2 linked regions of the Homo sapiens genome follow. The protein of the gene in region 2 interacts with the protein of the main gene of each other region in a pairwise test. Each region holds a gene or a part of one and is shown on either strand. Other genes may lie near its edges.

Region 1 (4,600 bases), on a different chromosome or scaffold from region 2:
CTCTCTTTTGTATGGAGAACAATTGTTAACACCAGCTGCCAGTTTTGTATTTTATTTTATTTGGTGTAAATCCTTACAAATCTGTGAGTGCATGTGTGTATGCATATATATGTATTTAAAAAATCTATAATGGATATTTTTCTGTATCAATACAGATGTACATATTTCCTTTTTAATTCTTATTATTCCATTATATATGATTTATTTTTTTTTTTTTGAGACGGAATCTCACTGTATTGCCCAGGCTGGAGTGCAGTGGCACGATCTTGGCTCACTGCAACCTTCACCTCCCGGGTTCAAGTGATACTCCTGCCTCAGCCTCCCGAGTAGCTGGAACTACAGACGTGTGCCACCACACCCTGCTAATTTTTTGTATTTTTAGTAGAGATGGGGTTTCACCATGTTGGACAGGCTGGTCTTGAACTCCTGACCTCAGGTGGTCTACCCTCCTCGGCCTCCCAAAGTGCTGGGATTACGGGCATGAGCCACCGTGCCTGGCCGAGTATACTATTTATTAAAGCAGTCTTTTTCTTTTCTTTTTTTTTTTTTGAGACGGAGTTTCACTCTTGTTGCCCAGGCTGGAGTGCAATGGCATGATCTCGGCTCACTGTACCCTCCTCCTCCCAGGTTCAAGAGAGTCTCCTGCCTCAGCCTCCTGAGTAGCTGGGATTACAGGCATGTGCCACCACGCCCGGCTAATTTGGTATTTTTAGTAGAGACAGGGTTTCTCCTTGTTGGTGAGGCTGGTCTCGAACTCCCAACCTCAGGTGATCCGCCTGCCTCAGCCTCCCAAAGTGCTGGGATTACAGGCATGAGCCACCACGCCCGGCCAAAGCAGTCTTTTTCTTAATACACCCTCCAGTTTTGCTGTACAACAGTGCTGGTAATGAATGCCCTTAAACAAATACATGTTTTTTCTGATTATTTCCATAGTATAAAATATGTACAGTTGCTATTTGGTACACTCATTATTTTGATTTATGTCTTTATTAGTAAAGATATAGGTCTTTTTTATGTTTATTGGTCATTTGCATTTCTTCCTTTGCATTATTGTCTTTAAAGTTTTAGTCATCTTTTTAATTAACTACTATTAATATATTAAGTAGTAGTATATTCTAAGTATATTTTAAGAGTAAATCAGTTTTATGGTCTGCTTAATTTTGAGAATAATTCCTCATTTTAAAAAAAATGAGACATGCCCTATAATTTAATGATTTGGTTTCCATTTAAGCTGTTAGTGGAAGAGATGAAGGTAATTATGAAAATATAATGTGGTATTACCTTAAAGGGGTAATTGCTTATTACCTTATAGCCTTAAAAATTAGATGACATAATTTTAAGTATATTATGTAGTTATTATCCAGACTGTAAGCCTTTCTCAAATATGTTTTTTAGAGGTAGGGTCGTGCTCTGTTGCCCAGGCTGGAGTATCGTAGCAGGGTCAATGCTTACAGCAGCCTTGAACTTCTGGGCTCAGGTGATCCTCCTGCCACAGCATCTCCTGAGTAGCTGGGACTGCAGCTGTGTGCCACCATGCCTGGCCCCTTAAATGTGTTTTAAGTAACATTTATTCACTTTAAAAATTACTGTTTAATTTTTTAAAGCCATAATTTATATCTTATATAATAAAGTTGAAACCTAGCTGTCAGGATTTATAAATCGTAAGTATATAGATATATTTAAGCAATATGATTTTATCTTTTCTAAAACTTTATCCTGAGCCAAGTGATGAGCTTCCTTTTGAAATGTTTATACCCATGACCAGAATTTTTGTCAGTTTTACTTTTAGCCTCCAGAACAGTTGTTAAAGATATGCCGTTTTCCAGTGATTGATAGCAAGGTAACATTCAGGCACCGAATCAGATTCTTACCTAAATAAGAAACATTGAATTTTAAATAGTATTTCTTCATTGGGTAGCAGGCAGTGTACTTATTTGTTGTTTGAATGAGGTAACAAATCCACAGTTATTTGGTTTTCATTCAAATACCAACAACAAAATGGCAGTTTTGTGAAGAATTTATAATTTTATTTACAATATAAAAACTAATGAACCTTCTGATTCTGACTTGTAGGGGATTAAGACTCACATTAATATTTCTTTAATAGCTAAATTAGGGCTTTTTAAAAGGTGTTGTTGAGGCCAAATAATTTTATTGGCATTTGGAAGATATTTCTCTTTTTTTCGTGTTTCCACAGATCGTTAACTGAAGACAATATGCAAAATTCTCACATGGATGAATACAGAAATTCTAGTAATGGCAGCACAGGCAACAGTTCAGAGGTAGTGGTAGAACATCCTACTGATTTCAGTACTGAGATTATGAACGTTACAGAAATGGAACAGTCACCTGATGACTCTCCCAATGTGAATGCATCTACAGAAGAAACTGAAATGGCAAGTGCTGTGGACCTTCCAGTGACGCTGACAGAAACAGAAGCAAATTTCCCTCCAGAATATGAAAAATTTTGGAAAACTGTAGAAAATAATCCTCAGGATTTTACAGGCTGGGTATATTTGCTTCAATATGTAGAACAGGAGGTTAGTAACTATTAAAATGGTATCAGAAGGGACAAATTAATCAAGTCATTAATTTATAATGAAACAGTAGACCTTATTGTTTATGATTAAAATTGACTCATAATTTTCAAATGAAGTTGAATAACATTAGGTAGCTACATTTTTAGCTTTGAAAATAGCTTACAGCTTTTGTATGTTGTAGAGAGTCAGTAGTGTCAAAGCTTAATGTTTTGTAATAATTGAGGTGTAAATGTGTGTGTAAAATTGCTGAAATAAAAAGTTGGCAAAATTAGTTCCTTCTGTTTCAATTGCGTTTAGAAGAAAAAGGGGGCTGCTGCCTGTGTAGGTTTTTTTTTTTTTTTTTTTTAAGTGAAAGCAAGTTTATTAAGAAAGTAAAGGAATAAAAGAAGGGCTGCTCCATCGGCAGAGCAGCCTGCATGTGGAGTTTTTAAGCCTGCCATTTATTATTATTTTTTTAGATAATAACGTTTGAAAGGAATAATAAATATTTTTTTGACAGAAATTTCCACAATATTTAAATACTGTTTTATTTTTATCAGAATCACTTGATGGCTGCCAGGAAGGCATTTGACAGATTTTTCATACACTATCCGTATTGCTATGGTTACTGGAAAAAGTATGCAGACCTTGAAAAGCGGCACGACAACATTAAACCATCAGATGAGGTGCGTACATCACTGAATAAACTTATCTCCAATAGGTACTGTAAGCCAATTAATAACAAAACAAAGATTTTTTTTTTTTTTTTTTTTTGGCTGGCAGTACCTACCATTTATGGTCAAACAATTTTTATAGGGTATTTATTTGCATTTGTCACTCTTGTGGCATTTGTAGCTAATATTTTCTCTCTTTGTTGGCAGGTGCGTTAAACCTCTACAGTTTGTCAAGCTTTGCAGTGCAAGCCTCTGTATTACACTGCAGCTTAACAAGTAGGGCAGGGCTTTTCTCTCACTTACATTTATTTCTCATTTTCCAAACAATATAGTTGGTTTGCTAGTCACATTTGCTACGTCTTATTGCATTTTTGGTCAGACGCTGTCATTGATGCTCTAATGGGTCTGTGCCCTATGGTCTGTAACCCAAAGCCTGCCCACACAACCCGGTCAGAATGCAGGGACTGCTGCGCTTTGAAGATCAAGACTCTGCACGTGGGGATCAGAACATTGCCATGTTCTATCCAACCTCCACCCAAATGGTAATGGTAGATTATTTAAACAAAATTCCAGTAATTAGTATTTCTAAGGTTCACCGGATAACACAGTGTTGCCTCTCTGTTAAGAAATAATTAAATATTTGAAGTACAGTTTGCTGTTTTCTTCTTAGGTTTATCGGCGGGGGCTTCAGGCAATACCTCTTAGTGTTGACCTTTGGATACATTATATAAACTTCTTAAAAGAAACATTGGACCCTGGTGATCCTGAGACAAACAATACAATAAGAGGGTATGTGGAACATTGATACTGAAATGTTTTTTATGATATAAATAATTATTCTGATGTTGATAATAGAGCTCATGAAAGCTAAGCTGGAAGTTTAACTTCTATTCCATTGTTAAAAAAATGATACATGTAATAAACTTAAGCTTTATGATTTGAAAATGCAGATAATAAAGCCCTCCTACAGTCCATGCCTCTTATGTCCCCAATTCCACTCCTCAAGGTTAATAGCTTGGTGTGTGTTCTTTCAGATATATGTATAAGTACATGTTTATGCGTATGCTTTCATACTGCTCTTTGACTTTTTTTTTTTAATAATGTTTGGGAATCTCTTCCTGCCATATTTTTTAACAATTACAAAAAGTATTTTATAATACTTTATAAAAAGTATCTTATAAGCCAAAGTACTCTATTTCACCAAATCCTTATTTATAGGAAATAATCAGTGCTACAGTGAACATCTCTGTACAAGTCAATATTTTTTGTAGAATGCACTAGAAATGGAACTTCTGTCAAAGGGAACACACAGCTCAGTTTTATCAAATGTTCCTTCAAAAATGGTATCGATTCTAAACTCCCACAGTGTATGAAAATAATCATTTTCCCACAGCTGTGCCACATTTT
Region 2 (3,500 bases):
GGCTGTGTGCAGTGGCTCACACCTGTAATCCCAGCACTTTGGGAGGCCGAGGCAGGCAGATCACGAGGTCAGGAGATTGAGGCCGTCTTGGCCAACATGGTGAAACCCCGTCTCTACTAAAATACAAAAAATTAGCTGGGCATGGTGGCGCATGCCTGTAATCCCAGTTACTTGGGAGCTGAGGCAGGGGGATTGCTTGAACTCGGGAGGCGGAGGTTGCAGTGAGCTGAGATCATGCCACTGCACTCCAGTCTGGCAACAGAGCAAGACTCTTGTCTCAAAAAAAAAAAAAAAAAAAAAAAAAAGGCTAATGTTTATACCAGGCAGGTAGAAAAACAAAAACGGACCTCATTAGAGGATACATGAGGTTTCTAAAAGTGGAACTCCTTTGTAAATGTAAGAAGTGATATCAATATTATTATTATTTTAATATACTTATTTTGAAGTAACTAAGTTTTTTTGTTTATTTCTTGAAAGAAACAATAGATTGGGGAAAAACCATTTACTCTTTTCATGCCCTAGTTTCTAAATCTGTGACATTATAAAGGTGTAAATATTTATGAAAATAGTAGAAGTTGCCACTGGCTGTATTCTTTTAAGTAAGGTATCTCATTTAATCTTTTCTACTGTAAAGTAGCCGTAAAGTAATAAGACTTTTACCTTAAAGATCATGACTAGAACAATTTTTTCATTTGCGGAGATATGAGGCTTGTCATTTTTATTATTCCAATGTTCATGTTTTTAACCAATTTTTCTTGTCTTGCCTCCACTGATTATATATAAAGAATAGCGATGAGAATATAGCTGTAATTATGATTACTAACATCTTTGAATACTTTCTGTGTGCTAAGCTAAGGTTTATAATTAATTCATTTATTCCTCAGAACAACCCTATGGTATAGGTACTGTTAATATTCTGATTTTACAGATAGGGGAACTGAAGCACAGACAAGTCCAATTAATTGTGCAAAGGTACTTAATTAATAAGTAGCACAATAAGGAGTTGAACCAAGGTAGCCCAGCTTTAGAATCCATGCTCCTGTGTAAAAGAATAAAAACAGATTTTAAAAATACTTATTTTGGATGCTGATAGGAGCTTGAGAACATAAACGTTTGGAATACTTTAAAAGACTTGTACTTTCTACATCATTTGAAGAGATTCCAGAAGAATGGGCAGAAAGTAAGAGGATAGAGAGAAAAGGCCTGGGGTGAGGGGTGGGAAGCATTAATAGGATAGGAAGAAATGAGGAATCAGGTGTTCAAGGGAGATTGGTGCTACACTTTTGAGGTCATTGATGACCAGCTAGTAAGTTTAATAATACGTAGTGTGGAACATAAACAGACACTTGGTGTTTAGGGTAGTAACCTTACAGGAGTTGTGTTTTGGTGACATTTTATAGGGGTAGGACACATATAGAATGAAGTAGAGATTGTGGTTATACAGAACAGAGATGAGGGACTAGATGAGGGGAGTGGCCCTAGAATGAAAAGGAGGACATGTATGCTGAGAGAAATGTGATAAGGTTAGGCTGCATAGGATGTACCAGCTGACTGGATGTGGATATTAAAGGCAATGGGGGTATTAACAATTATTTTTAAAATACAGCAAGAATTTAAAAAACTTTTAATCAATCAAAAATTCCTTATTTAAGAATTATATAAAATATCAGTAAGTGAAAAACATTTAAAATTGTATTTTATCAGGGATTATAACTTAAGTAGAAGATACATGTTAATTTCTTAAAACATTTCATTTCTGTGCTAAGCTCTTTCAAAGCACTGGATGGTGATCTAAAGGTCACCAAATTCTTTGTCCCAAATTGGTAATTTTAAAGTAAACATAATTTCAACGTTAGGCCTATTTTGTTATTTGCTGAGAAATGTCTCAATGTCAACCAGGCAGTTCTCCTCTCTTATTAAAGTCCATGCTCAGAATGCCTGTGTAACCTATCCTTAGTGATAAACAAGGTGGCAGATAGATACATGATAAAACAAGTTTGCCATGTGCTCAATGTGGCTGACATTTATACTTCTCAGACCTTGCTATTTTAGGGAAGGTATCAGTATAACCAGGGCATTCTTTTTCCTGGAACTAAAAATCCTTAATAATCAGTCACTATTATAAACAGAATGATTTACATACAGGAATCAATAAACAGTTGCTTTTGGTTAATGGTTATCTGGAGTAGGAGGATAGTTATATTTCAAATAGAATAGAAAGCTTTATTGGAATACTTACATGTCTTTTTAGTTTGAGGACCTTACAAGCTTTTTACAAATAAATGGTTTAAAATAGTTTAAACAGAAAATGTCAGAACATTGATAGATTATGTTTTATTTAATATACAGAGAAAAATTCCCATGAAATAAAGACAGTTTTCAAGAAAAATATTCTATTTATAAATATTTACAACTTATTAGTTATTTAGATTGCCCGTGTCCATAAAAATAATACAGAAATTACACTATTTATGTCTTTAAATATAGCATGTTTCTATAAACTAGAGAATAATGTTGACAGTATTTTATTTTGCCTTTGTTAGTATTATGTGAAAGTCACACTTATTACATGCCTTTTTCTATTATTAGACTTTTTTTCCTATCTAGTTTTTGCCTTGTGCTATACAGTATGGTGAAAATCTATTTAGCTATGTCATTAAGATAATGCTTAGAAAATGCTAATTTTTAAGTAACTAAGATTAAGTAGTATTGGATATTCTTTGCCTTCTTTATTATTCTGTCATTGGGCTAATTTTAACTAGACAAATTTATTCCAAAGTATTTTGAGCCATTATTTGAACTTCATTGCTGTAACATTCAGGAAAAACTGCATTGTCTACCTAGTGGCATTCAGATAAGGCATTTGGTCTTAGGTACCTCTTCCAAAAGACTTTTAAGAGGTTTGATAAGCATAGCAAAAGTGAACGACGGAGGATACAAGAAAATCTTTGATCCAGGAGTAGTCTCTCTGAAGCATTGCATGACCTTTCCAAAAAATAATTTGAGAAGTGCCTAACAATAGAAAAATATATATTTTTTCCTTCAATAGGAAAGACTTTAGAAAAAATATACTCAAGTAGAATTCTGCATAATGCTTTCTGGGGGACCACATTTGCTGAAAATTGCCTACGGGAAATGACTTTCTCAGAGTGATATAGTTTTGAGGACTGAGATTTTAAAAGTAAATATTTTATTGGGAGCAATTAATTTAGGAAGAATAGTATTATGCCTATTCCTCTGTAGTTGATTAAAGTTTACTAAGTGCTGAGGTCTTTTCCCTTAAAACATTACTTTGCCATGTTAACAATCAGGTCATAGAGGAATGAATTCATCTTTTGTGTTTTGCTAAATAATCAGTTAACAAACATATTCTGAGCACGTTTAAAGTCAAAGGATTGTAGTAGGTCACAAGAGGGAGATCGAAAGTATAATTACATAGTGTCTTTCCTTCTTTGACATACAATTGGGTTGAGGAGAAAGACTTGAAAACTTAATGCAAG

What was found. Proteins that work in one complex are often made in the same cells at the same time.
Region 1: the proteins of MBNL1 (region 2) and PRPF39 interact in a two-hybrid assay, tested with the Homo sapiens proteins (one large-scale study listed by BioGRID).

What each region holds. Positions count from the first base shown.
Region 1 is NC_000014.9:45,093,024-45,097,623, forward strand, and holds part of PRPF39 (pre-mRNA-processing factor 39), read left to right. Parts: intron 1-2,197; 5' UTR 2,198-2,216; coding exon 2,217-2,540; intron 2,541-3,079; coding exon 3,080-3,205; intron 3,206-3,863; coding exon 3,864-3,982; intron 3,983-4,600. UniProt on the Homo sapiens protein: Involved in pre-mRNA splicing.
Region 2 is NC_000003.12:152,275,429-152,278,928, forward strand, and holds part of MBNL1 (muscleblind-like protein 1), read left to right. Parts: intron 1-3,500. UniProt on the Homo sapiens protein: Mediates pre-mRNA alternative splicing regulation. Acts either as activator or repressor of splicing on specific pre-mRNA targets. Inhibits cardiac troponin-T (TNNT2) pre-mRNA exon inclusion but induces insulin receptor (IR) pre-mRNA exon inclusion in muscle.